4 separate regions of the Homo sapiens genome follow, and regions 2, 3 and 4 are each linked to region 1. Evidence: fine-mapped QTL for protein levels in blood plasma. A gene starts in region 1. Each other region holds a variant in brackets. All regions are shown on one strand. Distances are between the middles of the regions. Region 1 holds the start of CRISP3 (cysteine rich secretory protein 3). Region 2 overlaps CRISP3 (cysteine rich secretory protein 3). Region 3 has its middle 14 kb from the start of CRISP3. Region 4 has its middle 29 kb from the start of CRISP2.

What was found. PIP is the posterior inclusion probability: the model's chance that the variant is causal. Protein levels are from antibody-based Olink assays in UK Biobank. Linkage for the fine-mapping came from a reference panel and not from the study's own genotypes, which makes the PIPs less certain.
Region 2: its variant is fine-mapped to the plasma level of the CRISP3 protein (UK Biobank, PIP above 0.99).
Region 3: its variant is fine-mapped to the plasma level of the CRISP3 protein (UK Biobank, PIP above 0.99).
Region 4: its variant is fine-mapped to the plasma level of the CRISP3 protein (UK Biobank, PIP above 0.99).

What each region holds. Positions count from the first base shown.
Region 1 is chr6:49,739,560-49,747,671 of GRCh38, forward strand. It overlaps CRISP3 (cysteine rich secretory protein 3), which reads right to left and starts at 4,829. Exons shown (of 8, transcript NM_006061.4): 1 at 4,772-4,829. The coding sequence starts at 4,808.
Region 2 is chr6:49,719,656-49,727,767 of GRCh38, forward strand. It overlaps CRISP3 (cysteine rich secretory protein 3), which reads right to left. Exons shown (of 8, transcript NM_006061.4): 8 at 7,721-8,112. Among named protein-coding and RNA genes, the nearest start is that of CRISP2, 10 kb to the left of the region's middle. RefSeq lists a silencer at 407-607. The variant A/T (reference allele first, on the strand shown) is at 3,755.
Region 3 is chr6:49,754,807-49,762,918 of GRCh38, forward strand. No RefSeq gene overlaps it. Among named protein-coding and RNA genes, the nearest start is that of CRISP3, 14 kb to the left of the region's middle. The variant T/C (reference allele first, on the strand shown) is at 4,005.
Region 4 is chr6:49,680,657-49,688,768 of GRCh38, forward strand. It overlaps a transcript of CRISP2 not described here. Among named protein-coding and RNA genes, the nearest start is that of CRISP2, 29 kb to the right of the region's middle. The variant G/A (reference allele first, on the strand shown) is at 4,608.

The DNA of each region.
Region 1 (8,112 bases):
GAGTAAACAACTTGAATGAGATAAATATGATAAAGATGTAACATCAGCTTTAAGACCAATAATGGTGACAGAGAGTCGCTGTAATATTTCACTCCATCCCCACCTCTCCTCCCAAGGGACTACTGTAAATAGCAGGTGCAAGTGGAAAATGATTTGTTTGCAATTCCATTTAGTAGTAGCGTCACATAGAAGGTACTAGAAAGAATGAAAAAAAAATAGCCTCTCCTGTCATTCACTTCCATGAAGCAATTTCTAAGTGTATTAGTTATACATTATTTTCTACTATTCCTTGGAAATAAGCAGTAGATTTCTCTTAATTCATTTCACTTGAAAGAGTTATTTTGCTATGTGTAAGTCACTGAGTCCTACCTTTTATATGGTTTTCTGTTCTGTTCTGGTTTTCCTTTTTCAAAGAAATTAATAATTTATCTCAAGTGTGATTAGAGAAAAACCAAGTCCCTGGATTTCAAAGATTTATGATTTCAAATAGTGATGGTTTGCTACTAATTCCAGATCTACAGCAGAGCAAATTGTGTCTTTCTGAAGCATAAATGTATATAATACAATTAAACTGTAACATACTGTGCCTTCTTCACACTGATGTTAGGACCACTGGTATGTTTGAAACACTCCCTTGGAAAAGGAAATCATTTTATCAAATGACCTGATATCACTGCATATTGACTGACAACATATATCTACAAAAACTTCTATAGGCATATCTGGCTTTAACAGTCCATTTTGTGGAAATAAGGATTTGCAAATTAGGAAGTAGGACAAATTTGCTTAGTGCTAAGAGAAGAATTAATCAAATGGTCTATTTATAAAGCAAGCCTTTGGCTTTTATTTCAGGCACAATATCAAAATAAGCAAGCTTCTTGCTGCCACCCCAAAATTAACTCTGAAAAAATTATAGAAGCAAGAGGGAAACAGGGATTCCAAGAAAATACTGAAAAGATAGTGAGAAAATCTGAGGAGAATAAAGTCTCTCATGACTTCTAGAATGTGTATATGGATGTGTGTGTGTGTGTGTGTGTGTGTGTGTGTGTGTGTGTTGTGTATAGTGAATGTGAAGGAGAGGGGAGTGCTGCATCCAACAGCAGTGGTTGGTCTAAAGTAATGCCTGTTAGTTTCTACTCTTGCCTCAAAACAATCGATTCCTCTTTATTTGCAAAATTCTGCAACAACAGAAAAACGCTTGCTCTAGTGCTATGTGTCAGCAAAGTAGCATCGAAGAACTGTAAGACCCATCCTGTGTGGGGCTGGATGCGGTGGCTAATGCCTGTAATCCCAGGACTTTGGGAGGCCGAGGTGAGCAGATCACGAGGTCAAGAGATCGAGACCATCCTGGCTAGCACGGTGAAACCCCATCTCTACTAAAAATACAAAAAATTAGCCGGGCATGGTGGCGAGAGCCTGTAGTCCCAGCTACTCGGGAGGCTGAGGCAGGAGAATGGCGTGAACTCGGGAGGCAGAGCTTGCAGTGAGCCGAGATCGCGCCACTGCCCTGGGCGACAGAGCGAGACTCCGTCTCAAAAAAAACAAAAAACAAAAAACAAACAAACAAAAAAAACAAACAAAAAAAAACCACCAAAAAAAAAAAAACAAAAAACGAAAGTACCATCCTGTGTGAAGAACCAATGATAATAAGGTCATGTGTGATAGCACTCTCCAGTGCTCTTATACTCACGCCTTCTTACTCCCTAGTGTTGTATGGTTCAAATTAGCTTGACTACTTCCTCCCAATGCTGTTTTTTCCTGAAATGTAATCTGAGGAGTGGATATAATTCCGGGATTGACTCATAAAAGACGTAAGAATAATAGTAAATAATACATAAGCCCACTTCATAAATGAATTGCAAGAATCCTAACAAAATATTAACTCATCAATTTCAAAAATATATTAAAAATATCATGACCAAGTAAAATTATATGAGGACTGCAAGAATAATTCAAAATTAGAAAATTCATTGGTAAAATTCATCACATTAACAGACTAAAGCAAAGTAATATGACAAAAAATACGTCATTAAATTCAACCCCTGTATGTAGTTTTTTTTTTTTTTTTTTTTTTTAAAGAAAAAATAGAAGAGATCATTACTTTGGTAGGAAGCATATACTGCAAATCTATACCCAATATAATGGTTATTGGAGAAATTCTAGGTGCATTTCATTTAATATTGGGAACAAGAAAAGAATGACTAACACTTTTATTTAACACAGTACTGGAGAGATCCTAATCAAAGCCATAAGAAAAGAAAGTATATACATATATATATATATAATATATACAAGTAATGTAATGTATACATTTTATGTTATATATAATAATATAAAATATATTATTATATATAAAATATTTGTAACTTTTGTAAGAGAAGACGTAAAATTGTTATTGTTTTCAAATGATAAGATCATCTATCTGGAGAACACACCAAAATTAACAATTTTGCTAGATGCACTATCAACTTACAAAAATACCATTTCTATTACTGGAAACACTCAACTAGAATATAAGATTTAAGAAACACTTATAACAGTTAAAAAAACTATACAGTATCTGGGAAACAACAAAACAAATTTAAAAATCCTTTTTGGAAAAAATCTTAAAACTTTAATAAAGAACATAGCAGAAGTTCTGAATAAATTGAGAGTTTTGTAATGCTTTTAAATGGTACATGTTAGCATAAAGATATCAATCCTAAACTAACCTGATAATTGTTTACTTTAATTCCAATACAAATTTTAAGTGGCTTATGAATAACTGAGTAAACTTTTAAAAGAAGAATTGCTTGGGCGCAGTGGCTCATGCCTGTAATCCTAGCACTTTGGGAGGCCAAGGAGGGTGGGTTGCCTGAGCTCAGGAGTTTGAGACCACCCTGCGTAACATGGTGAAACCTCGTCTCTACTAAAACTACAAAAGTTAGCCGGGCATGGTGGTGCATGTCTGTAATCCCAGCTACTGGGGAGGCTGAGGCAGGAGAATTGCTTGAAACTAGGAGGTGGAGGTTGCAGCGAGCCGAGAGTGTGCCACTGCACTCCAGCCTGGGCGACAGAGCAAGACTCCATCTCAAAAAAAAAAAAAAAAAAAAGGAAGAAGAAAAGAAAAAGAAAAAAAAGAAAGAATTAATTGGGTTATCTTTTCATATTAGTTATTAAGATAGACTTCAAACATTTGTTGACAAAAATTTAATATTATTGTAGGAACAGATAAATCAACTGGTGGAGGAAAATACAAAACTTAAGAGACAGACCAAACATCGTAACATTAAAAAGCAAAGGAGGAAGAACAGACTATAGAAATATTTTAAAGGATTACGTGGATTAGAAAAGATGTCAAAAGCATTAACACATGTGAGTATAATGTGTGCACTATAGGTATAGACACATTTATAAACTAGTCACAGCACAGAAAAGTATTTGATGCAATATTTTCTTACTTAAAATTTAATAGTTAATCTTTATTCTGATCACTTTCTTTCATCTTATTATGTATCTGTGATACAGAAAGCAGCCTATGCCAATATGCAAAGTTTGCAAAACTGCTAGACTTCATCAAGTAAGAAATTCGTAAAGATATCCAAATAAGAATAGCTGTCTTGCATTTCTTGAGAAGCACTTTTTTTTCAAGGATGAATTCCCTCCCTTTTACTTGAATTCAATAAATAACGTAACTGAAATTCATAGCAATTATCAGATTTACATTACTTGAGAATTCTGACACTCTTCCTCCCAATTCATCCCTGCCTGTTACAAATCAGAAGCCCCAATTTACCTCATAACTTATCAATGTAGGGTAACTCCCAGGCTTGAAACTTGTCATCAATTTAATTTCTTTTGATCCACTTTCAGAGGTCTTAGTCATACAGGCAGACATTCTAGATTTGGTTTTAACTAGCAGAAGAGGCAACACCGGATCTTCTATGGCTATTGCAAATACTCCCAGAGTTTCCTGGATAGCATTTAGCCACAGGGAAGAAAAGCATTTTACTTTAAAATCTTCTGTCTAGTGGTAAATAACCCCTTTCATGTTGTCATTAGGTAGTTCTGTGGTCTCCTACTATCTGACTCTTCAGAATCACTTCTAATATGCTACGGAAGATAAAGCCGTATGTGGAAATTGCTTCCTTAGATGAAATATGCACGATAGATATTATATTTAAATTACCTACATAAACATGACTGAGTAGACTGACTTTTGACTGAAAAACTTCTAAAAGCCTTTTTTTTTTGTTTTTGATCTGAGTGCATTTCATGAGGTAAATTGCATTTTATGTTGATGGTCTTTAATAAAATACTTTTTAATCTTGAGATCAGTGCTATAATTTTGTTTTGACCAATTTAAAACTTTTGCTATGGCATCCCATATAGCTGTATGTTTTAATATTAGTAAAAGTTACTGATGTGAAAGTATGCACACACATATATTCATAGTTTTTCATTTTTCTATTAAAAATAGTTCTAGTACAATTGTTTCCACAAGTCATAGACATGGGAATTAGTTATATTACTTTAGAATGAAAGGTAAAAATTTATTTAAATTTCAAACTGGATAAAAGTGCTTTTGGAATAATAAAGCTGTCTATGTATTAGCTTCTCAGCTTAAAATGAATATATTAAGATAATTACTCTCATTAAAAGTTATCAATAAACTTTGGAAAATTGTAGATAAAATATACGAATATATCACTTTATCATTGATAAGGTATAAATGTGTTGTTCACCTTGAAATAAATAATGTTCACCTTGAAATAAAGGAGTTATCACTTACCAGTGGTTTCCAGAGCAGGATGAAGTATTTGTTTCATCTATTGACAGAAGGAAGGTGCAGAGAGAGAAGGTTAGAGCCGTATATATGAAACACCTATTTCCTGTTTTGGCAAATTCTGGTTGTGCAAGTAACTCTAGATCAACAAGGCCTGAAACAGGATTTGTCATACCAGTAGTCTCAAATTTCATTGCTGGTTTTCTAGTCATGATTTTGAAATTATTTGGTGATTCCTCAAATGGCTTTTAAAAATAAATTGCTATATCAAGTTTTGTAATTGTGCATTTATTCTTTGAAGTTCATATATTACAATTTATCCATGTTTTTGCCAGTCAATAGTTTGAAAATTCTTAGCCCAATTATTAGCATCACAACATTAGAGTTTTCAGAATTATTTCTGTTGGATTGAAATTAAGCTCATAATTTTTATGAACTCTAGAGAACACAATGTTTTTTACAGCTATCTAAAATGTTTATTAATAATCTATTGGACATTACTGTTTTGGATAATAATTTTATCTTTAATGTTTGTAAATACAAGGCCACAGTGACTTTCAGAACTCAATGGCCAAACACACCATAACTCATTGGTATTTCTATATTCAAAGATGTGCTGTATTTACTTGTATTTTCTGGTTGTATAAAATTAAAGATAATATTGATCTCCAAGCTAAATTATCATTATTTGGTTCTGTTCATCTATGGAAGATGTCAATCATTCCAGGCTTGTTTCCATAGCACAATAATGAAGTGGGGTGGACTAACAATTTCAGATTTCCTCTGATTCTAAAATACAATAATCTTAAATATTGAGTTTATATAAATAAAGAAGTATAAATTAATAAATCACAAGTAGCATATACATAGCACGCAGACATTTCTGCATGCTCATATTGGCATATAGATTGCACCTTGTGGTGCATAATTCAATAGTTTCTGTTCATTTTCATTTTTATATTTAGCTTTATTGATCAATGTGACAAAATGTATAATCACAGATCAATGTCTACACAATAGGCACATTTTAAAATTATAGTTAATTTTGAGTTCAAGAATTGGATACTTCTAAATGTCTGTTATAAGAGAGTTGAGAACTCAGAAACTCAGGTCAGATTTTACCATTAAAAAATGGTTAACCATTTGCTGCCATGTCTCCAAGTAACTCCTAGAATCTGTTTACTTTATGAACATGTGAAGTGGAAGCTCTCAATAAACCAAATCAGCTATGTGGAAAAAATCACCATGGAACAACCTTCTACACAATCCTCTTTCTGTGGCAAAATGTATTTTGTGGGGAAGGACCAGACCCAGAAGCATCCACAGCCCATTCTCTTCTCTACTTAGTGGTGTAGAATGTTGTTAAAAGCTTGATATTTCTGTTTTAATGGAAATGGGCTAAATTTCTATACCAATGTGTATTGGGAAATTTTTATATTTTATTATTTTATTTTATATCATATTTTATTTTATTTGAAGCAGGATCTCACTCTATCATCCAAACTGGAGTGCAGTGGTTAGATCAGAACTCATTGTAGCCTTGAATTTCTGGGCTCAAGGGATCTCCTATTTCAGCTTCCCAAGGAGCTGAGACCATGGTGTGCACTACTATACACAGCTAATTTTTTAAATTTTTTTGTAGAGACAGAGTCTTGCTATGTTGCCCAGCTAGTGTCGAATTTCTGGCTTCAAGCAATCCTCCTGTCTTGGCCTCCCAAAGTTCTGGACTTACAGGCATGAGCCACAGCACCTACTTTATTAGGAAATTATTATTCTGATTGTAAATTTTCATATTTATCATAAATGGGAATAATATTAATTGTATTTAATTGTGATACATAATATATGTAAGCTGCCTGCCATGTAGTAAGTATTTCCAGTGTTAATTCTCTCCCACTTTATGCACTTTTCTTCTGTATCTAGACAAACCTACCCCTAATATTTGTAAGCTGTGGGATTGCACTTGAGTTTTAGGACATGGTTTGACTTACTAAGCTATAGGCAGTTCTGTGAGAAATTACCATAAGTAGACACAAAACAGTATAAAAAGGAAAAATATTTTTGCCTCATTATTCAAACTTGATAGTTTTTCTCTAACTTTTTACTGAGTTATGACTAAATGACCACTAGATGCACCATGATGTAGAAGGCATTTTGCTTGTCAAATATTGGTACATTTATTATTAAGCTAAATAAGTATATGTGGTCTTTTTGGGTCACAAAATACCATACACACGTTGGACTGACAGACTGACTTCAATCTGACCTTAAGTGTCCAAAATGGCTGTTTCTAGTCACCTTTGTTCTCTCATTTCCCATGATTAGGTTGTCTTTTCTGTATTTACGTGTCCCAAGGTCATTGCTGGCCCTTCATGATCCATGTCTCCCAATTTTAGCAGTGAGTGTCTTCCAGCTCTTATTTGGATATCTAAGTTCCATCTTAAAAGAGCAAATAGTTTGTTCCTGTATATACATTTTAATCTATTCCCACTATTCTATTGAAACTTATCAATGAGTCTCTTAGCGACTGTTGCTATTAATCATTACATTTTGTTTTAGGAATGCTCCTTTTCTTACTCTTTAAAATTATTCTTCTATTCCTATGCTTTGACTAGTACAGTGTAACCAGATTGTCTATAATATGAATAAATAAAGCACAGCTTCCATCTCTTCCTAGTCAGCCCTTCTCTCATCTTAGATACAACAACATCTGAATGCTGCCTTCCTGGGATTTCTACACTGACCACCCAAAACTGACTAGTTATTACAAGGGCAACTGGGATCCCTGCCTTACAGCTGAACTCTTGACCCAGCTTTTTATGACTTTTACTTCCCCATTATTACCAACTACCTATAGTTTACTGATTACAGTCTTTGGAAATTGCCAGGTCTGAGAAATCCTTTCTGAGCTTCAGTTTTCTCTTCTCTGAAATGTGAATTTTCATATCATACGTTGGTTTTAATGACTGAAAAGCATAATTTGTGTATAAAAATGTACTGAATACATAATTAAACTATTAGTGCGATGCTTGGCATGTGACACTCAATAAATGGAATTATTAACATTTGTATTATTATCCCTTCCAAAGCCTGGTATTTCCTGAGTACATAAAAGTCTTCCACGAATGCATTTTGTTTGATTGAACTGCCAATTCAGGAGTCTTTATAAGAAGTCTTTCTTGTTTTAGGTATTTAGGAAACAATCATAGTTTAACCAGAAATTCAAGTGTTTAAGGTGCAGTTCTATCAAAGCCTGTCAGGGTGACTTTAACAAAATGATTGAGCATCTCTCATTTTCTGTATCCTCACCAATAAATTAAGGAGCACAGACTCAGGTGCATTTTAGA
Region 2 (8,112 bases), 20 kb before region 1:
ATTTCTTTTACAATTAATTTTTCACAAACCTTTCACAACTTGCTTAAAGCTTCAGCTTCATCTGAACTCAAACAATCCTTTACCCTTTAGGCAAAAAACAAGTCACATTCCCATGACTTCTTATAATTTATTTTAAACTGAAAACACATTTTACTTTCTTTGTACACCTTTCATGTAAAACTTTTTCTTCAGTAGTCTCAATTACATGTTATAATGTTAACTCTTATCAACGTTTACTTATGGTGAAAACCTTGGTAAGTTAGGATTTTAATTGTTTACTAAATGTAGAGCCTAGGATCCAGATAGAAGTGCAGATAAGGTCTGACTTTTTCCAATGTCTAACTCCACATGTCTCAGGCTTTACCTAGCTGTAAAGTAGGCAAGTTGTACAGTTAAGAGTCATAGTGGCATTTTATGAAGCATTTAAGAGGACTAGCCACCTTTAAATTGCACATTTCTTTCATAAATTCTATTTTATAAATTCTTTCATGACTTAACCAGACCATCTACGAAGTGCTTGGGCTTTCTGACTTGTCCTAAACATCCCTCTTTTTAAACAACCAGTTATTTTACTTTAGACAAGAATTTACCATACAAGATATTTTCTTATATAAAATCTCTTTTCTTTATAACCTTGTTTACATAGATAGGGCACATGGCTAATTTAACATGTGCCCAGGCTTTTTGTTTTTTTGTTTTTTTTTTTGAGATGGAGTCTCTCTCTGTCACCCAGAGGGGGGTACAGTGGTGCGATCTCGGCTCACTAGAACCTCCATCTCCCGGGTTCAAGCAATTCTCCTGCCTCAGCCTCCTGAGTAGAGGGAGTACAAGCACATGCCACTATGGCCAGCTGATTTTTTGTATTTTTATTAGAGATGGGGTTTCATCGTGTTAGCCAGAATGGTCTTGATCTCCTGACGTCATGATCCTCCTGACATCATGATCCACCTGCCTCAGCCTCCCAAAATTCTGGGATTACAGGCGTGAGCCCCTGCGCCCAACTGCATGTCCCCAGGCTTTATATAGAATCTAATGCTCCAAAATAAATTGAACAATTTTTGAAAGTTGAAGAAGCAGTTTATGACCTTAAAGCAAACCTAATATCTAACCTGTATAATTTAGACCAAATGTTTACATTTTGAAGATATTTTTATTTTACCAATAATGTTTAAAACTATCTTTATTTCCCAAAGATTACTTAAGTCACATGAACTAAATAAAAGATATTACACTTTTTACTTTTCTGACAAAATATTCTATTTGAGCTCTTATATTAAACCAATTAATTAAAGCTCTTTTATATTACACACACAACATACATAAATACATAGACAGAATAAGAAAGGAGTCATTCCCTAAGCTGGGAATTGAACCCTGAACCTGGGCTGCCATTGTGATGGTGGAGACCAAGAGAAAGTACTGCCACATGGTTACAAGGTGACATTCCCAAGGACATACAAGACAAGATAGAAACCTCATCCAGGTTTTTTTTTTTTTTTTTTTTTTCAGGGACTTGCAGCAAAGTTTGTAACTGACCAGTTTGCTGGGTCATCTTGAACAGTGGGCTTATGGGAGTACTAAGCCCACATTCTATCCTAAGGTACCACTCTTTTATGACAGAACAACACAAAAAAACACACAAAGCACACCATATTTATTATAGTTTAAGACTAGCCTCACAAATCCTTTTTCTCATTAATCAAAACTTTAAAGAGAAAATAAACACTGATTTTTGCCATTCATTCAACAGGTTTGCACAGAGAGAGAAAGTAAGGGGAAGGGAGAAAAGCATTGCTTACAGCAGAATGGGGGAAGTGAGGTGCTCAGAGAGGCCAGAGAAAGACCCACCCATTGCAGCTGGCACTGAATCAAAAGTTCAGGCAGCTGCTTGTCAGTCGAGAAGGGATCTTTTCCAGTACTCCCTTTGGCAATCAAGTTTCCCCTTTTATGGAGGAAAAAGTTCCCCATGTCCCATGATCCTTTACATGCCTAATTCTGTCACCCGCAGCTGTCACCAAAAAGTGCAAGGCAGATTAATACAAAGAGAATAGTGGTAAACATTCCTAGTGGCAAACCTGTTTTTAGCCAAAAGGGACTTTACTGACAGTGGCCTCTAACCCCTTACATCTTAGGAAGGACTCTAACCTTCCTAAGTTGGGCCTTGAACCCAAGTTCAGTCAAGCATCCTTACTTTTATTAAGAGGAGCCTTTTAACCTACTCTGTCTTAGGAGAGACTCTAACTCCCCTAAGTGGGCCTCTAACGCAATCCCATTCTTTACCCAGGTATATGTGCCCCACTTACCTAAAGTCAGCCAATCAATGCTGCAGTCTATTTCCTTTGGGTTGGGAGTCTCCTCAGTATTATCTCTTCATGGTCACTGGAAAGATGTTACAGGAAAGGGGTCCTGATCCAGACCACAAGAGAGGGTTCTTGGATCTCAGAGAAGAAAGAATTCAGGGTGAGTCTATAGAGTAAGTGAAAGCAAGTTTATTAGGAAAGTAAAGGAATAAAGAACGGCTACTCCATAGGCAGAGCAGCCATGAGGACGGCTGGTTGCCTGTTTTATGGTCATTTCTTGATTATATGCTAACCAAAGGGTCGATTATTCATGCCTCCTCTTTTTAGACCATATAGGGTAACTTCCTGATGTTGCCATGGCATTTGTAAACTGTCATGGCGCTGGTGGGAGTGTAGCAATGAGGACAACCAGAGGTCACTCTTGTCACCATCTTGGTTTTGGTGGCTTTTAGCTGACTTCTTTACTGCAACCTGTTTTATGAGCAAGATCTTTATGACCTGTATCTTGTGCCAACCTCCTATCTCATCCTGTGACTTAGAATGCCTTAACCATCTGGGAATGCAGCCCAGTAGGTCTCAGCCTCATTTGACATAGCCCTTATTTAAGATGGAGTTTCTCTGGTTCACACACCTCTGACAAAACCATGCACTTGATCTCTCAAGTTGCCTGCTTGGCCTTCTTCCAAGTGTACTTTACTTACTTTCATTCCTGCTTTAAAGATTTTGAATAAACTTTCATTCCTGCTCTAAAACTTGCCTTGTTCTCTCTTTCTGCCTTATGCTCCATTGGTCTAATTATTTCTTCTGAGGAGGCAAGAATTGAGGTTGCTGCAGACCTGTATGGATTCACTGCTAGAACAATACCAGATATATTTTATGCATGTGGAAAGATACATACTCTTATTTTGATGAATATTGTTTTCTGTGCATTGAAAGCTATTTGGATCAGAAGGCTCTTATTGAGATAATGCCCACGTATGTAGCACAAGGCTTCTTTGAAATCATTATTTTCTCATGTTTAGTTTCAGCTGTACAATACAATCTTTGTAGATCTTATCAACAAAAGTGATGAGTGAAGTTTGGCTCTTGATATAGAATAAGAGAGTTAAAGACACAGAGTCCTGCCATGTTCTGTGTCACAAATCTCTAAATCAGTTCCGATCTATATTTGTTGCCACCTCCCCTGGCATACAGCAGTAAAAACTGTGATCCTCTTTATCATTATCTTGGTTTTTTCTTTTGCTTGCATGGCTTGCATGGTTTCTAATGAGAATTCCACTGTAATTCTTATTCTGTTCCTCTATCAGTAAGATACCCTCCCTCCTTTTAATCATGTGACCTTGCTAAACTTACTAGTTCTAGTAGCTTTTTTGTTGATTCCTTCAGATTTTCTACAAGATCATTTTAATTTTCAAATTAAGGCAGTTTCTGCCTTTTTAATCTCTATACCTTTA[A/T]TTTTTTTCCTTTACTTATTGCATTGGCTACAATTTAAATAGTGAACTGTAAACCAGTAGTAAAATTCAAAGGTTCTCCATAATCATCTGAACGGACTCTCTCCTTGGCTAGGGCACCCTGAAGTTTTACCTGAATGACTGTATCAGGCCATGGTGGGAAGTGGGGGTCGGACATGCCTCATTATACCTCTCTAGCATTAACATCAACACAGGCCTTAAGCCTGGTAAGAAACATTTACAGTCTATTCTCTCCAAAGCCTGCTACTTGGAGGCTTCATCTGTATGATAAACCTAGGTCCCCACGACACCCTAATGTAACCCAGACATTGCTTTCTACTGATAATAAGTCTTTCAACTAATTGCCATTCAAAATATGTTAAAATCTGCATATGACCTGGAAGCCCTCCTGCTTCGAGTTGCCCTGCCCTTCCAGATTGAACCAATGTAAATCTTACATGTATTGATTGATGTATTATATCTCCCTACAATGTATAAAAGCAAGCTGTAGCCCTACCACTTTGGGCATATGTCGTCAGGACCTCCTGAGGCTCTGTCACAGGCGCATCCTTAACCTTGGTAAAATAAACTTTCTAAATTGATTGACACTTGTTTCAGATACTTTTTGGTTTACAGAACAAAAGTGGTACAAACTAACATATTTGCCTTATTCCTGATTATGGATTCCAGATAAAAAATGATGCAATCATCGTTTCAATGATAAGTAATAAAAAGAAAAAAACATTAAAGACTTAAACGATAGACCTAAAACCATAAAAACCCTAGAAGAAAACCTAGGCAATACCATTCAGGACATAGGCATGGGCAAGGGCTTCATGTCTAAAACACCAAAAGCAATGGCAACAAAAGCCAAAATTGACAAATGGGATCTCATTAAACTAAAGAGCTTCTGCACAGTGAAAGAAACTACCATCAGAGTCAACAGACAACCTACAGAATGGGAGAAAATTTTTGGAATCTACTCATCTGACAAAGGGCTAATATCCAGAATCTACAATGAACTCAAATTTACAAGAAAAAAACAAACAACCCCATCAAAAAGTGGGCAAAGGATATGAACAGACACTTCTCAAAAGAAGACATTTATGCAGCCAAAAGACACATGAAAAAATGTTCATCATCACTGGCCATCAGAGAAATGCAAATCAAAACCACAATGAGATACCATCTCACACCAGTTAGAATGGCAATCATTAAAAAGTCAGGAAACAACAGGTGCTGGAGAGGATGTGGAGAAATAGGAACACTTTTACACTGTTGGTGGGACTGTAAACTAGTTCAACCATTGTGGAAGTCAGTGTGGCAATTCCTCAGGGTTCTAGAACTAGAATTACCATTTGACCCAGCCATCCCATTATTGGGTATATACCCAAAGGATTATAAATCATGCTGCTATAAAGACACATGCACACATATGTTTATTGCGGCACTATTCACAATAGCAAAGACTTGGAACCAATCCAAATGCCCAACAATGATAGACTGGATTAAGAAAATGTGGCATATATACACCATGGAATACTATGCAGCCATAAAAAATGATGAGTTCATGTCCTTTGTAGGGACATGGATGAAGCTGGAAACCATCATTCTCAGCAAACTATCACAAGGACAAAAAACCAAACACCACATGTTCGCACTCATAGGTGGGAATTGAACAATGAGATCACATGGACACAGGAAGGGGAACATCACACACCAGGGCCTGTCATGGGTCGGGGGGAGTGGGGAGGGATAGCATTAGGAGATATACCTAATGCTAAATGATGAGTTAATGGGTGCAGCACACCAACACGGCACATGTATACATATGTAACAAACCTGCACATTGGGCACATGTACCCTAAAACTTAAAGTATAATTAAAAAAAAAAGAAAAAAAGGAAAAAACATTCACTCATTCACTATTAAGTATAAGGTTAGCTCAGGGATTGATTTTGCAGATGCTCTGTATTAGAATAAGAAAGTTACTTTCTATTCATAGTTTTCTGAAAATTGTTTTCATTAAATCCTATTAAATCTTGTTAAGTGCATTGATTTGCATTTTTTGAGATGATCATATTATATCTTTATTTTATTAGTATGATACATAATATATATATATATACACATACACATATATATTTATAATTTAGTACAATTTAACTTAATTTCTTTTCTAGGGAATAGCCTCTTTTTTTTTTTTTTTTTTTTTTTTTTTTTGAGACAGAGTCTTGCTCTGTCGCCCAGGCTGGAGTGCAGTGGCGCTATCTAAGCTCACTGCAATCTCCGCCTCCCGGGTTCACGCCATTCTCCTGCCTCAGCCTCCCGAGTAGTTGGGACTACAGTTGCCCGCCACCACGCCTGGCTAATTTTTTTGTATTTTTAGTAGAGACGGGGTTTCGCCATGTTAGCCAGGATGGTCTTGATCTCCCGACCTCGTGATCCGCCCGCCTGGGCTTCTCAAAGTGCAGGGATTGCAGGCGTGAGCCACTGTGCCCGGCTGGTAATAGCATCTTAACTGATGTCTTGCTTCCATTCTTGTCCTCTCACAATATTAGATCTAATAATATCACTCTTTAATATACTCTGATGATTTGCTGCCTTAATTATAATAATATCCCAATTCTTTACCTACCCTAGAGGGCACCATATAATGAGATTCCTGCCTAAGTTCCTTACCTCTTTTTAATATTTTCTTTACCATGCTCCCTCTACTCCAGCTATTATGGACTTCTTGCCTTTAATAAAATATGCCAAGTTTATTCCTACCTCAGTAACATTTTACTCACTATTCTTGCCTGAAAGTCTTCTCTATCAAATTATCTATTGGTGGTTCTCTCACTTGTATTGTGCTCTTGTTCCATAAAAAACAATTCAGATTTTGTCACTCTTCTGTTTAAAATCTTACAATTGGTTGTTCATTACTAAAAGGATAAATTCAAAGCTCCAAATAGTATTTAGCACTTTAGAGATGATTTACCTGATAATCTTATTTAAATTAACATTTCTCCCTCTCAGCCTATCCTCATTATGCTCTATCCTCTTCCCAAGTTTAGTTCATAGCATTTGTCATTTCCTGACATTGTATTAAGTATTTATTTGCAAGAGAGTTTTCTTTCTCTTTCCTCTGCTAGAGTGTGAACTTCATGAAATTTGGAATTTGGTCTGTCTTGCTAATTGTTCTATTTCAAAGTGCCTAATTGAATACTCAACACATAAGTGTCTTCAATAAATATTTGTTGAGCACAGGAATGAATTATTACACACTGTGATGATTACTATAAGAAGAAATATAGGGAGCTCTGAGAGAAAATGGGGGGAGCTTCCCTAGATTATGTGCTCAAAAGAATCTGTTGATGAAATAATGTTTAATGTGAAGTAGCAATTCTAGCAAATAATACAGTGATCACTCTTCCAAACAGAGCAATAGCAAACACAAACACCATAAGGTAAAAATAATCTTGAGGAATTTGAGATAATTTAACGGGCTCATCCTACTGAAACAGAGGAAATGAGGGAGGGTGGAATGAAGTGAGATTGGAGAGGGAAATATAAAAAACATTATTCAGCTTCTTGCAGATCAGTTTAAGATCGTGAATATTATACTAATTACTTCTGAAACCTATTGAAAGGTTTTGAATGGAGACTAATTAGGAAATTTATTGCTTGAGAGATTAAGAGATGCAGCCAAAAATAGCATCTAGGGGCTGCATTGGTGGTCTTGCACCTTCCTGTTTTCCTTTGCCTCATGATTACTTAGATCCTTGAAATTTTTACTGCAGTTTGATACTGGATAAGCATATCGATCTGATATGACAACCCGATCATTGATATTATCTGAAAGGACAAAATCAAACATATAGCACTGGGATAAAGGAGCTGAAGGTTAAAAGTCTAGGAAAGAATAACTAGATAATCTGAAGAAAAGCTTTGATGCATCATGGAGTCAAGAAATAAAATTCTTGTATTTTTTTTCAAGACACTTTTTATTTTGCATTGCTTTCTTAGACTTACCGAAAATTTGGTAAGATAGTACAGAGAATTCCTAGATAGCCCTCACCCAGTTTCAGTTTCTCTAACGTTATCATCTTACATTACCCTGCTATATTTATCAAGATTAAGAAATCAACACTACTGTTAAAAATACTCCAGATTCTATTCAGACTTCATCAGTTTTTTCATTACTGATCTTTTTCTGTTCCAGGATCTGATCCAAGAAGCACATTGCATTTGGCTCACATGTCTCCTTAGTCTCATGTGGTCTGTGATTGTTTCTCAGGATTCCCTTATTTTCCATGATTTTTACAGTTTTGAGGAATACTCTAAAATACCCCAGGGATATTTTGTAGAATGTCCTTC
Region 3 (8,112 bases), 15 kb after region 1:
CAGTCTGGTCTCAAACTCCTGACCTCAGGTGATCCGCCTGCCTCAACCTCCCAAAGTGCTGGGATTATAGGCATAAGCCACCACACCCAGACCTTGGTTTGCTTTTATTGGATTTTGCTGTTCTTCTGAGTTTTGGTGATCTTCACTTCCAGCCGTATTTTAAATTTTATTTCTGTCCTTTCAGCCAAATCAGTCTGATTAAGAACCCCTGTTGGAGAACTAGTGTGATAGTTTGGAGGACATAACATACTCTGGCCTGGCTGGGAGCAGTGGCTCATGCCTGCAATCCTAGCACTTTGGGAGGCTGAGGCAGGTGGGTCACCTGAGGTCGAGAGTTTGAGACCAGCCTGACCAACATGGTGAAACCCCGTCTCTACTAAAAATACAAAAATTAGCCAGATGCGCTGGCACATGCCTGTAGTCTTAGCTACTTGGGAGGCTGAGACAGGAGAATTGCTTGAACCCAGAAGGCAGAGGTTGCAGTGAGCCAAGATTATGCCACTGCACTCCAGCCTGGATGATGGAGGGAGACTCCATCTCAAAAATAAATAAATAAATATATAAAATAACTATTTTTGGGTTAAAAAACTAAGATTATCCCCAAGACACATAATCATCAGAGTATATATATATGTGTGTGTGTGTGTGTGTGTGTGTGTGTGTGTGTGTGTGTGTGTGTGTGTGTGTATGGCCTTTTGAGTTGCCAGAATTCTTGCATTGTTTCTTTCTCATATCTGTGTATGATGGGTGTTCCTTTAATTGTGGTGTAGATTGAGTACAGTCTATAGCCTCCTTTGCTGGGTGTTTTCACAGGGCTAAGGCTTTGTGCAGAGTCTTTTTTAATTTGCTGCTGACTTATTTCTTGTCTTTGGTTTCACAGGGGGTTATGTTAGCAAGGTATTTTTGGTGTCAAAGCTTTGGGATGTGATCCAGTAGGTGGCTCTTAGGCATTTTGGTCAATAGGCAGGCTCTTGCTCAGTCATGTGGCTGTCTTATATTTTCTCACAGTTGCAGCTGCCTCTCAGTACTCAATACTCTGAAACTGTGGACCCTTCTTTCACTTGAGTGTTGGTTGTAGATCATAGCTTGGTACTCCCAGACTGCCCACCACAGCTCTGGGGAGATCTCAGGGTTTATGTTTCCTCCCTAACTTGAAGGCAACAGAGGAAGTGACCTACCTTAGCAGTGGTTGAAGACGAGGTCTCTTACTTGTCTTCTGGGGGCTCTGCCCCAGAGAGATGCAGATCATCAATTGATCAGTGTAATCAGCTCAGGATGGGGGTCGGTGTGGTAGGCTCAAGCCAGGAGTTCTGTGCCTGATGATAAGCACTGTGGGTGGGTGAATGGGACCTGGTCTTCTTTCCTCTGGGTTGACTGCTGCTTGTTGGAGCTGTGGATAAGGCACTTAGGTTCTTTTCTCCTTCGTTAGTATGGGAAGTACCACTGCTACTCTCTCTGCAGTGGCAGAGAGGCTTTCGGTTGCCCCTGGGGGCTTCACCTCTGAGAAACATGAAGCCACTGTTGCTGGAAGTTTCAGCCAGGGCAGTTGTGTGGATGCCTTGCTGGCATGAGCTTGAGGCTCTGCTTGTTGGGGAGCAGGGGGTTGATGGCTCACCAGGAGGAGAGACTGGTCTCCTCTCCATATGGTGACTGTGGCATGCTGTAAGCTTGGGTGTAGCCCTCAGGTCTTTGTTTCTTCCCCAGAACAAGGGCAGCAGGGATAGAGCCACTGCTGTGGCAGTGGCAGAAGTGCTGTCAGATGCTTCTGGGAGCCTCTTCCCAGGGAAACTCTGGGCCACTACCAGTAGTTTATGCTCAGCTGTGGGTGGGGTGACTGTTCTTTGGTCATGAACTGGGAGCTCTGCCTGGTAAAGAGTGGGGTTTGGGAGTTCCCAGCAAAGAATGGCTAGGCACCTCTCTGTATGGTGGCCTTGATGTGCTGGAGGTGCCAATGTAGTGACTAGGCCCTTTGTTCTTTTCCCAGCCCAAGGGCTATTAGGATGGTACCACTGCAACTACAGTGGTGCAGGGGTTGCAAGCTGACTGTGGGATTTCATCCTCAAACAAATGCTGGGCTGCCTCTGATTGAAGTGGTCAGGTGGGGGTAGGGTGGTTGTACTGGAGTCCCAGGTTGGTTGGCCCTGCCCAGGAAGAAGCGAGGACCGGGACCTGCATGGAGAATAGTCCGGTCACCTTTCCATGAGGTAAGTGCTCTGTACTGAGGGTCCAGACAAGACCCTGGTCTTCACAGACTCTCCAGAGCCTGGAGATAGCACTGGTGAGGGCTATGAGACAGCAAAGACGTCAACCCACCCCTCCCACTGGGAGCTCTGTCCCGTGGAATTGCAGAGCTGATACTGACTTGATAGCCCCAGTGGGGAGTGGGTGAAGACCCAGGCTGTGTGGACCCATCCAGTGAGGAGATATGGGATCAGGGACCCATGTAAAAAACAGTCTGGCTACTTTTCCACAGGGCTGCTGTAGTATGCAGGGGATCCAGTCCAGTCCCTAATCACCTTGAATTTTCCAGTACTTGAAGGTATCAACAGTGAAGGCTGCGAAACAGCAAAGATGGAAGCCTGCCCTCCCTCTGGGAGCTCCATCCCAGGAAGGTTTGGAACTGCTGCCAGCTGGAAAACACTGGCAGGGGTGGTTGTAGACCTCAGTTGAGAGATTCTGACGAGTGAAGAGAAATAGGATCCGGGACCCACATGGAAAAACAGTCTGGTTACCTCTCTGTGTAGCTGCTGCACTTTACCAGGGTAACTGCTCCAGTCCTTAGTTGTCTTGGATTCCTCAGAGCTCAGAGGTATTAATAGTTAAGGCTGTGAAAGAGCATAGATGGTGGCCCAAGACACCCCTTGGGAGCTTGGTCGCAGGGAGGTATAATACTGCTACCCATAGCTGAGTGAAGTTCTAAGATGTGGGTCTTATCCAGTGAGGTGCCATGGAAGCAAGGTCTGCAGACTGTGGCTGCTCAGGCCCCTGTATTCAGCCCCTTTCCTAGAGGTATGTATGGAGGTCTAACCTCCCATTTTGCCAGAGCTGCAGCCACTTTTATTGGGAAGCTCACTTGGGGCTCCATGTGTGTCTGAGCAGCTGCTCTTCTAATACTCTGTGTAGCTCTGTGTGTCTAACTGAAGGCCCTGGTGGAATAGGTTCATGAAGGGGTCTCCTGACTCAAGAGTTGCAAAGATCCATGGGAGAAACATCAGTACCTGGGAGTGTTCACTCACTTACCACTTCCTTGGGCTGGGGAGACTCCCCTGGCTCCACATTGCTCCTGGGTGGGAGATATCCTGCCATTCTTTTCTCCATTCTTTGTGGGTTGAATTGTTTTTCTGATGAACCCTAATGAGTGTACCTGGATGTTTCCACTGAAGGTGCTGTATTTACTCACCCCTCTATTTCTCTCCATGGGAGTGGCACACACTACCTGCTTCTAGTCTGCTGTCTGTTAAAGACTAACTTGCTGTAGCTTGTTTAGTATAGGGTCATATGTGACACTATCATTTCATAAATTTTCATAATTAGGGTTGTGTTTTTGCTCACCACTTTAGATCAAAGTTTTAAAATCTAAGCACCGAACCATTGCTGGAAATAATAAGGTCTTGCGAATGAAGCATCTGAAGGACAATCCAAAACTGAAGTCCTGATTTCTGACAAATAAGAATCAATTTTCTCTTTTTTTCTGTAAACTTTGACATATGTGACAGGACTGTGTCTATAATCTGAGTATGGATATAAGCATCACTAGAATTAATAGTTCAACAAATAGATATACAGAAATTAATAGCATCCACTGTATTATCTTCAGATATCTAGGACAATTGTGTGTGTGTGTGTGTGTGTGCAATTGGCAGAGATTATATCTTTATTGTTGCTGAAAAACTAGAAAGAAGGAAGATATATTTTGCTATTTGAGGAGGAAGTTTGAGAATCCTGTGGGCAGTGGCATAATTTATCCTGTGAGTGGCATAATTTCTATTGATGACATATTTTGC[T/C]CTTGGGAAATAAACAGAGCAGTGCTTACACATGAATACAACATTAAAAAATCAGAAATTAATGGTGAATGATTTGCAAGTAATCTTTTTGGTGGTGTTTTCTTAACTTTGGCAATATTTTTCTATGAAGAGGACTGTAAATGGATAGCCACCTTGTACAGGTATTGTGTTATTGCTACTCTCTTTAAGGCCAGGTTTAAAATTATGAATGTAGTCTTTGATTAATGTTACCTAATAAGAAGTGCTCAGTATCATTGACCACAAAAAAAGCATTGTATCTTCCAAATGATGACAACTCTCACTTCAGTGATGAGAATTAAATAATGTTTGCTTTCTGTTCTAATTCTTCTTTGCTTCCTTATTTAACATTTTAAGAAAAAGACATTTATCATAAAAATAAATTACCATTTTCAACTTTTGTATTTGTTGCATACATTTAACTTCTGTCTAGTTGATTTATATAAATTGAAATTGTTGTAATTATCAGTAGTATCTTTTATGTATCCAATGAGAGTTATACCTGTAAATTAAAATACTTGATAAAAAGCACTTGGGTATATGTCATCTGTCATTTCACACATCCTAATTGCTCATGACTAGTTCCTAAAAAATTCAAATGTCAAATTAAAGGAGTCATTATTATACTGAAAATGTTGAGAGCCTTTTGAGCAATGACATACTGTTGCATTTTTTTAAACCAATCAGATTACAAGTCTTTAAATATTAGTGGTGGCATTGTAAATGGGAATAGATAATTTGTTTTAGACAGTCAACCTTGGTGAAATAAGCTTATGTTTCTTTATTGAGAGCAATTGTAAAAAGCCAAATTGTTTCCTAAGATGAAAGATAAACACCTCTCAGGCAAGACTATATTTTCTTTATAGCTCATTTAATTGCTTTAAATTTTTTATCTCCACAATTTCTTTCTGATCCCTAAGCCACAAATTATACTCTGCCTCTTGGTTGCTCAGGTGTATTTCATTTACTTTACCTTTCTAATGTTTTCATCTTAAAATTTTATTGGGATCAATATGAAGACGATTGATGCTGAAAAAGAACTTTGGTTACATCTTCACGTACGAATACACAAATATAAATGTTATCAGAACATTTGTTTCTCCGAATAGTATCATTTTCTTTTATTAATAGTTATGTTCAAAACATGTCATCAAAGTAGGCCTCAGTAGAAATGTAGTGATGTAATTATTGCTATTAATTTGCTTACTCGAAGGCACATAATTTCTCCAGCTCTAGCTAGGAAACTTCTCCTGATATCTATCTCATAAACAAAGACTAGAAACCAGGTAAGTTATTTCTCTGTTTTCTGTGTGTTTTAAAGAAACACAAATTAGGTATTTTGCTACGCACCTTCAGTCTGGGCTGAGGTCAGTAGCGACGGCTTTTCTCTGATCTATATGGGTTTCCCTTGGCAGCTTGACTAGGGCTGGAGGATCTACTTCTAACATGGTGCACCACATGGCTGACTGGCTAATGGCAGCCTATGTCATAAGACCTGGGCCTGGAAATCAGAGCAGCATCACTTCTATCATATTCTATTGGTCAAGCAGTCACAGACCCCAGATTCAAGGAAAGAAGACATAGACCTCGCCTCTCAATTGGTAGAGTGTCAAAGAATTCTGAGGTTGTATTTTAAAACCTTCAAATTACCTTCAAAAGGTTTATTATTTATTTATTTATTTATTTTACCAACTTGCTTCCTGCCTCTGGTGTAAGTGGCCCATACAATTCGCTCCTCTCTGGCTTCTTTCCAGAAACTCTAGAAACATTCTCACTTTATAATATAGAGCATTTCACCTCCCTCCAGCATTGTATTGAAACGCTTTGGGCTAACTTAGCCACTCCAGATCCCAAAAACTGGGCCAATGCACAGACCAGAGAGAAGCTTGGAAGCATTTGGCTTTCCCTTCCCCTTCTGTCACAATGCCTGAGAAGGGAAGAGTAAAACAAAGTATTTTACTTCTGTCCAATGTGAACTATGTTATTTATCTAGAAGCAACTTTGGTCATTTTTGGTCATATAGACTTTTCACCTTATTTCCTTTGCACAAGTACATGGTTCCCTGTCTTCTGTGGACTCATTGTAGCTGGCCTCCTGCTCCTCCTCCCTGGGCTTTGCCTTCCCCTGGGCCTCAAGACTTGACTCTGTAAATCCTTTTCCTCAATCTCCTACTACCACATTCCCATGAGAGTTGAGAGTCATGAGACTGTAGAATTAAAAATAAGTTATTTACTTTCAGAATATAATGGTTGTACAGGCACTGGGTAAACATTCTTACTCTAAAAGGGAGAAATCAGCCAAAAGCAAGGATTTCTTGGAAGTTCAAAACTAAGCAGGGCAGACATTAAGTCTGAAAGCTCCAAAATAATCTCTTTTGACTTTATGTTCTTCATCCTGGGCACACAGGTGAGCTCCCAAAGTCTTGCTTAGTCCCATCTCATGGCTTTTCTGGCATGCAGCCCATGTGGCTGCCCCCACAAGTTGAAGTTGAATTCATGTGGCTTTTTCAGGCTGAAGTGGCATACTGTCAGTTTCTCCACCATTTTGGGGTCCAGACAGTGGCTCCACTTCTGCAGCCTCACTAGGCATTGCCCAGAAGGGAACACTTTGTGGTGGTTATGGTCCTATGTCAGATGCCTGCTTGAGTACCCAGGCTTTCCTATACATCCTCTGAAAACTTTGCTTCTTAGAAATTTCTTCTGCCAGATAGCCTAGGTCATTACTCTTAAGTTTAGCATTACACAAAGCCACAGGGCATGGACACCATGCAGCCAAGTTCTTTGCTATGATGTAATAAGGGTGACTTTTGCTCCACTTCCCAGGAAATTTCTCATTTCCATCTGAGACCTCCTTAGAATGGTCTTTACTGTTTAGGTTTCCGTCATCATTTTGTTCACAGTCACAACCAATTTTTAAGATGTTCCAAACTTTCTCTCTTTTTTTTTTTTTTCTGAGCCTTCTAACTCTTCCAACTTCTGCTCATTGCCCGGTTCCAAAGCTACTTCCACATTTTCAGCTATCTTTATAGCAACAGCTCACTTCTTGCTACCATTTCTCTTAGTTCATATTTTGTGATTATTACAAAATATCTGAGGCTGGGAAATTTATGAAGAATAAAAGGATTATTTGGCTCACAAAGGTGATGACTGGAAAGTTTAAGATTAGGCATCTGCACCTGGTGAGGGTTCTAGGCTGCTTTCACTCACGGCAGAAGGTGAAGGGGAGCTGGCATGTGTAGAGATTACACAGCAAGAGAACAAGGCGGTAGGAAGTGCTGGGCTCTTCTTAACAAACTCTCTCAGGAACCAATAGAATGGTAACTCACCTCCGAAGGAGTGATTTAATCTGTGGGTGAGGGATCCACTCTCATAACCCAAACATCTCCCATTAGGCCCCACTTACGATATTGAGGCTCAAATTTCAACATGAAGTTTGGTGGGAACAAACATCCAAACCATTGCATATGCCCAGCCTATCTAACAGGATAGTTTAGCCTGGCCTACGTTAAACATGCCCAGAACACTTACCTTAGCCTACAGTTGGGCAAAATCATCTAACACAAAGCCTATTTTATAATAAAATGTTGATTAACTCATGTAGTTTATTGAATACGGTACTGAGAGTGAAAAACAGATTGGTTGTTTACCCCAGTGATTGCCTGGCTGACCGCGAGCTGCGGCTCATCTCCACTGTCCAGCATCACAAGAGAGTATCCTACCACATATGGCTAGCCTGAGAAAATATCAAAACTCAAAATTTGAAGAATGTTTTCTATTGAATGTCTATCACTTTTTCACCATCCTAGAAAAACCCAGGTTGAATCATCATAAGTTGGGGATCATCTGCATAAGCCACATAGTATTTGCTGAGAACTTGGTATGTATAATTTATTCTGACTTCCGTGGAGAGAAGAGAGAGTATGCAGATCATTTGGATATATTAATGCACTGCTCCTAAAAGCAAATAAAAAACAGCAAGGTGCTCACCTTTTTTTTCTAAAGCATGTGGATTTTTGTCTTGTTTTATGTTGTTTTGTTTTGTTTTATCCTAAACCCACTGACTCAGAATCTCTGGAAGTGGAGTTTAGACT
Region 4 (8,112 bases), 59 kb before region 1:
ACATCTGTTATTTTTTGACTTTTTAATAACAGCTATTCTGACTGGTGTGAGACGGTCTCTCATTGTGGTTTTGATTTGCATTTCTCTAATGATCCGTGATGTTGAACTTTTTTGGTATGATTGTTGGTTGCATGAATGTCTTCTTTTGAAAAGTGTCTGTTCATATCCTTTTCCCACTTTTTAATGAGGTTTTATTTTTTCTTGTAAATTTAAGTTTCCTGTAGATGCTAGATATTAGACCTTTGTCAGATGCATAGTTTGCAAAAATTGTCACCCATTATGTAGGTTGTCTGTTTAATTGTTGATAATTTCTTATGCTGTACAGAAACTCTTTAGTTTAATCAGATCCCATTTGTTAATTTATGTTTTTGTTGCAATTGCTTTTGGCATCTTCATTATGAAATCTTTGCCCATGCCTATGCCCTAAATGGTATTTCCTAAGTTGTCTTCCAGAGTTTTTATAGTTTTGGGTTTTACATTTAAGTGTTTAATCCATCTTGAGTTAATTTTTATATATGGTCTAATGAAGGGGTCCAGTTTTAATCTTCTACATGTGGTTAGTCAGTTACCCCAGCACCATTTATTGAATAGGGAGTCCTTTCCCCATTGCTTGTTTTTGTCAGATTTCTCAGAGATCAGATAGTTGTAGGTGTGCTGTCTTAATTCTGGGTTCTCTATTCTGTTCCACTGGTCTGTTTATCTGTTTTTGTACTTACCAGTATCATGCTGTTTTGGTTACTAAGCCCTGTAGTAATTTTTCAACTAGATTAAGCATTTTTTCAACTAGATTAAGATATCCATAATAATATTAGTATATAGACCCACATTTGAACAAAGTACTTAATGAATTCTGCTGAAACTTTAGATTAAATGTGGGCAATAACATATAGATTTATAAAACAGAATCAATTTTGATTTATATTTATAAACTATCAAAAAGAAACAAATTTAGTGTAGCAAATTTAAAAATTATATTTTACTGTTTTACATATAATATCATGGTTTAAAAATGATGAAATCACTTTAAATTGGAGGAATTTCTCATAGATTAATGCCAAAGTTTTCTTTTATTTTTTTCCCAGGCTGGCCTCAAACTACTGAGTTCAAGCAATCCTCCTATCTCAGCCTCCTAAGTAGCTTGGATTCCAAGTGCACACCACCATGCCCAGCTTCAAGATTTTTTTTTGCCCTTTCCATTTGTCATATGTTAATCAATATGTTGCTTTCCTCCTTGTCATTATTCCTTGTTAACTGACAGTGATCTCATGATCACCTTGAAATGTTTTTTAATATCCCCCAAGCATTTAAATAATTATTTACTATGTCCTCACAGGTTAGATCATTCTTTTTCTCCTTCAGATAATTGTGCCAGGCTGTAGAGTTTAAAGATCCATCTCCGTGAAATAAAGTAATAAAAAATAAAAGTTAAATAATCATCTGTCTCTCTGGCATCTATACTATACTATTTCATCCTTTCCTCATCTTCTTGTTTTTGACACTTTTGGTGGACCTTTGCTCTTATTTTCACAAACTTTTTTAAATTCTGGGATTTAGCATATTGTTTCACTTACTTCCCAGGAATCTCAGGTGGTATTGTGGCTTTAGGTGCCGTCTATACAAAGATGATTTTCAAATCTTTATCTCCATTTTAGACTAAATCCCTCCTTATATATTCAACTGTCTTCTCTATGCCTACACTTTCAACATGTCCAAACTGAACACCTGATTTAGTTCTAGCAACCATATAACATACTCTAGTTATCTATTTATTTTCTTTCTCTCTTTCCCTTTCTTCCTTCCTTCTTCCCCATCCCTCCCTCCCTCCCTCCTCCTCCTCCTATTCCTCCTGTTCCTCCTCTTCCTCCTTCTCCTTCCTTCCCACCTCCCTCCTTCCCTCCATCTTTCTCTTTCTTTCTTTTTCTTTCTTTCTTTTTCTTTCTTTCTTTCTTTCTTTCTTTCTTTCTTTCTTTCTTTCTTTCTTTCTTTCTTCTTTCTTTCTTTTCTTTCTTTCTTCTCTCTCTTTCTGTCTCTTTCTCTTTCTTTTTCTTTTTTCTCTTTCTTTTTCTCTTTCTTTTTCTTTCTTTTTTCTTCCTTCTTTTTCCTTCCTTCCTCCCTCCCTTCCCTCATTCCTGCCCTCTCTCCTTCTCTTCCTCCTTTCCCTCCTTCCCTCCATCCCTTCCTCCCTTCCTCCCTTCTTTTCTTCCTGTTTCAAGTTGAGGTTACCAGGCACAGTGGCTCACACCTGTAATCTCAGCACTTTGTGAGGCCGAAAAGGGGGGATCACCTGAGGTCAAGAGTTCAGAACCAGCCTGGCCAACATGGCGAAACCCCATCTCTATTAAAAAACAAAAATTAGCTGGGCATGGTGGCATGTGCCTGTAATCCCAGCTAATCTGGAGGCTAAGGCAGGAGAATTGCTTGAACCCGGAAGGCAGAGGTTGTAGAGAGCTGAGATCACGCCATTGCACTCCAGCCTGGGCGACATGAGTGAAACTCCATCTCAAAATAAATAAATAAATAAATAAATAAATAAATAAATAAATAGAGACATGCAGTGTATACAATACAGCACACAAAATCTTAATTGCATAGCTCATTTAATTTCTAAACATGTGTATACCTATGTAAATAGCACTCTAAAGGGCTCCTTCATGTTCACCCAACCAGGACCCTTCAAGGTTTAATCCATTTCTTGTCACCATTTTTATAATTATGGGTTTTTAATATAATAGAAACAGCCGGGCGCAGTGGCTCATGCCTGTAATCCCAGCACTTTGGGAGGCTGAGGCAGGCAGATCACGAGGTCAGCAGTTCAAGACCAAGATGGTGAAACCTCGCCTCTACTAAAAATACAAAAATTAGCCGGGCACGGTGGCAGGCGCCTGTAATCCCAACTACTTGGGAGGCTGAGGCAGGAGAATCACTTGAACTGGCGGGATGGAGGTTGCAGTGAGCCGAGATCATGCCACTGCACTCCAGCCTGGGCAGCAGAGTGAGACTCCATTTCAAAAAAAAAAAAAAAAAAAAAAAAAAAAAAAATATATATATATATATATATATATATATAGAAGTTGATAGGACTAAGTCACTATGTAATTTATAAAGACATATTCTAAGCCTGACTACCATTGAACTAAAGGTTTTAAATGTCACATTGTCAAAAGTGAACACATTTTCATGAATACAGAACAAGTAATCTACCTAAGAGCTTTATATAAAGGAAATATTTATTTTCAAATTAAATGTCCAGTTTGAATATATTTTTCATTCAAGCTATGAGCTAATTTTAGTTTTCATCAGGAAGCAGAATTGTGGTAGTGCTTAAAAGTATAAGACTTTGAGTCCTACTATATCTGTACTGAGTACATGCTTTGATGTTCCTTGGCTGATTGTATCTGGGCAAAGTACTTAATCTTCCTATCCTTGTTTCCTCATCCGTAAAATAAAGAGAAAGGAATATTGGGAGGATAAAGTGCAAAAATGAATATAATCGTCCCTCAGTAGCAATGGGGGATTTATTCTAAGACCCTTTGAAGATACGAAAATCCACTGAAGCTCAAGTCCTTTATATAAAATGGTGTAGCATTTGTTATGACCTACACACACCCTCCCACATACTTTAAAACATCTCTAGATTGCTTATAATACCAGATACAATTTAAATCCTATACAAACAATTGTTATATTGTATTTTTTAGGGAATAATGACAAGAAAAAGTCTGTGCATGTTCAATACATATGCAACCATCTGTATAGTACTTTTTTCCTACTATTTTTGATGATCAGTGGTTAGTTGAATCCATGGACGTAGAACTCACAGATATGGAGGACCGACTATATAAGGAATTCAGCATGGCCCCTGGGATACAGTATGTTTTCTAATTAACTTCTGCAGTGCTAAGGGGAAGCAGAGAAGAAAATTAAAATGTATTGAGTATCATTAGTACCTCTTACTCTTGAATATCTTACATACTTAACTTAAAAAAGAAATCTACTTAATTTGAAATAAATCAATATCCAATGGCATTAAAATTTTAACATGTAAATTAGGGGTATCTTATACAATCATATTTCTCAATACCATGGGGTTTAAGATCATTCTCATTGTTTTTATATGTGGATGTGTTTGGATTTGTGTGCCACATACATACACACACTTATATAGTTTTCCCCTCTACCTACTATTGAAAGGGACAGAAAGTCTAAACTTTCAGTCAATTAGTACTGGGTATCCTTTGGCTCATAGAGACTTTTTGCATGCATACTAACAGAACTTTCATCTCCTCTGTAGCATATCCCCTTTTGTTACTCTCTACTCCAGCCTCTTTCACAGCTCTGGGATGCTAAGGACTCTGATGCCTGGGAACTCTGTGAGCACACTGCCAATAGTTCCAGGTCTCACAAATGAGTTTCTGTTTTGGGCTCCCCGGATGCCTCCCATGGCTGCCATTGCCTCATCAGCCCCCACTGCCTTTGCCACTGGCCACCAATGCTGCAGTGATAAAGATGGACACTTCATATGAGCAGCATGAAATGGTGTTTTCTGAAATTTCCTCTAACTTAAAGTCACACTGTGTTCCTTTAGAAAGTCGTAAGACAGCATTTCC[G/A]CCCTTTGGTGTTACACTGTATCATTTTATGAATCATTTTTATGATCCTAAGGAAAGGTTGTCTCTGCAGTGACTGGAGATGTCTATGTCCTTATTTCCTACTTCTAAAATTATCAACTGATGAAGGCAGGGACTCACTTTGTTCACTGGTATTTCCCTGACAGCTCTGTTTATCTTTGTATGTTAAAAACCATAAATTCATACCGATACCACCAATTTCAATAGAACACCACAGGGTTTATTCCTACATTCTCCTTTCTCATATGTTTAAATCCCTTCTCTAATAGTGAGAAACCTGGTTCTCATTATTCATAATGTATTTATTCATTTGTTCAGTCGTAACATATATAGTCAGTTTCAGAACTACTAACTCATGTGTCTATGGTAAAAATAAACACAACTTTATTGACTGGAGTCAAACATTTGTTTGCAGTTTTTATCTTTACCTAGAAGGAATATGGCATTATAATACTCATTAGGTCGGCTGTTTTTTCCCCCACTTTTTATTGTGATTATTTATTTGAAATATAGTTTGTTTTTTGTTTCTATCCTGTTTTTGGGCTTTCCCCCACTTCTTAATTATATTAATTATACTTTATTTTAATGAGTATGTAAGACATTAATATAATTCACAAGCTGAAACTATACAAAGAGGAATACCCAGAGAAATATCACTCCTCCCAACCATTTTTTCTTACACCATTGTCATCCTCCAACCAGCCCACCCCATTCTCAGCCACCCATGGTATACTAGTGTCAATACTTTCTAGTATACTCTATGTTGCATCAACATTTTGCAAAAATGTGAAGCCATATATTTTTTGTATTTATCATTTTTTAATACAAAAAGTAGAATACTATAAAAATGTTTTGCTCTTCGCTGTCTTTCAATTAGCAATATATACTGAAGATACGTCCATATCAGCTCATAAATATCCTTATTATTCATTTTAAAAGCTGCATAATAATCAATTGTGTGGATGCATTGTAGTTTATTTAACCTGCCTTTTGTGTATGTATAGATTATTTCCAATACAAATAACATTTTAATAAATAATCTTGCACATATGTATTTTCATATTCTTGGAACAACAATATGAAATTGCTAGAAGCGAATTAATGATCATTTCTAAAGGACTGGTAGAGTAAAGGATAAATGCACATGCAACTTTGTTAGATATTGCCAAATTTCCCTCTCTGGTTTCAAAATGAAAATACCAATAAAAAACCCACAATGAGATACCATCTCACACAAGTTAGAAAGGCGATCATTAAAAAGTCAGGAAACAACAGGTGCTGGAGTGGATGTGGAGAAATAGGAACACTTTTACACTGTTGGTGGGACTGTAAACTAGTTCGACCATTGTAGAAGTTGGTGTGGCGATTCCTCAGGGATCTAGAACTAGAAATACCATTTGACCCAGCCATCCCATTACTGGGTATATACCCAAAGGATTATAAATCATGCTACTATAAAGACACATGCACACATATGCTTATTGCGGCATTATTCACAATAGCAAAGTCTTGGAACCAATCCAAATGTCCAACAATGATAGACTGGATTAAGAAAATGTGGCACATATACACCATGGAATACTATGCAGCCATAAAAAATGATGAGTTCATGTCCTTTGTAGGGACATGGATGAAGCTGGAAACCATCATTCTCAGCAAACTATCTCAAGGACAAAAAACCAAACACCGTATGTTCTCACTCATAGGTGGGAATTGAACAATGAGAACACATGGATACAGGAGGGGAACATCACACACCAGGGATGGTTGTGGGATGGGGGGAGAGGGGAGGGAGAGTGTTAGGAGATATACCTAATGCTAAATGATGAGGTAATGGGTGCAGCACACCAACATGTCACATGTATACATATGTAACAAACCTGCACATTGTGCACATGTGCCTAAAAAAGCCTTTAATTTTTAAATACAATTATCAGTACTGTCTATAAGCCTAAAACTTTAATTTTAATCTTATACTTAACAAATATACAATGTATAAAATATTAAGTGAAATGTTTTATTAATGTATTAGCATATTCAATAAATAAATATGAACTAGCATATGTAGTATAAACGTTGATAAAGCATGAATCATTCTCAAGCTACTAAAAATTTCTTTTTCTTACATCACTTTCTGCCAGGAGTAATATTATCTAACTCTTCCTGTCCTTTGACATCACTGGAAGCATCACATTGAGCTTCTAAATTTTCTATGCAGAAACTTTTCATTCCTAGAATCTTGAAATTCAGTGTTCTCGCACAAAACTCTTGTCATGCGAACAAGGGCAAATGACCACACAGTACCCATGCCAAAACTGCTGGAGTTGGGATTACTGGGGAAAATTCATAGAGGAGGGGTCAGAGGGTTAATCTGTTGTTCATCACCATTTGGGTCAGTGTGAAGAGATACAGTAGGTTCAGACATGAGACTGTTAGAGATTTCCATCCTTGAGCCCTGGAGCCTTTAAGTTTCACGATCACACAACGTGGGTTTCTCCTCTCATGTACTCAGGGGCGAGGATCAGAAGTGAAATGAACCTTGCTTCAGTTCCACTGTGGTACCTCTGCTTTCTGGATTGGGGCAGGCTTGGGGGACAGTTACCCCTCCCCTGATGCAGCAGAGGCCTGGGATCTAAGCCGGATGGTTAAAGTCACATGGCGTAACAAATAAACAACAGTATTAGGCACACCTGTGTTCACAACTGGGGAAATACCAGCCCTTCCTTTGATATGCCGAGGGACTGATGTTCAAGTTTTGAGAAACTGTCTCAATCACTGGGCCATAGCTTGTTGCCATGGAGCTTTGAAGGAAGTCAGTCCCATCTCTGGGAGGTCAACCTGCAATGGATGAGTCCTAAGACAAGCAAAGTCTTACTGTTCACTCTTAGTTTTACATCTTTAAAACAAATTAACAAAACTATGGTTCTGAAAAATTAAGTGACATGCATATTTACAGTTGGAGAAAAGCTTGAACAGGATTCAGTTTTCCTTGTATTTAGAAAAGCGTGTTTGTTTTTGTGTTATGTGGTGCTTCTTCTGTTAATACTAGAAGACTTTAAGATAAGGATGTTTCTTTTTTATTTTTTAAGGCTAGTCAACTGGGAAATATACAGAATATAAATACAAATAAAATACAAAATAAAAATGCTTTTTTTTTCAATTAGGAAAATACATTAAAATATTATCTGCCACAAATGAGTCACTGGGCATTTACTAGCAACCTAGCTGGTAACTAATTGGGCTTTAAGGTACAGGCCAAAAAGCCATTATATTGTGATGAGAAAATATTCCGAAAACAGATCTTACTCTGTTAATGTTACCTGTTGAGTGGGGATTGCCTCTAAATTTTGTAGAAAATTTTGAATACCATTAATGTCTATGCTGAGAGCCTCTTTCCAAAATGACTGCTTTACATTACCTTATTTCCACAAAAATGCATTTTTGAATCTCATTACTTTCATTTAAAAAGTCTCATATTGATTAAGGT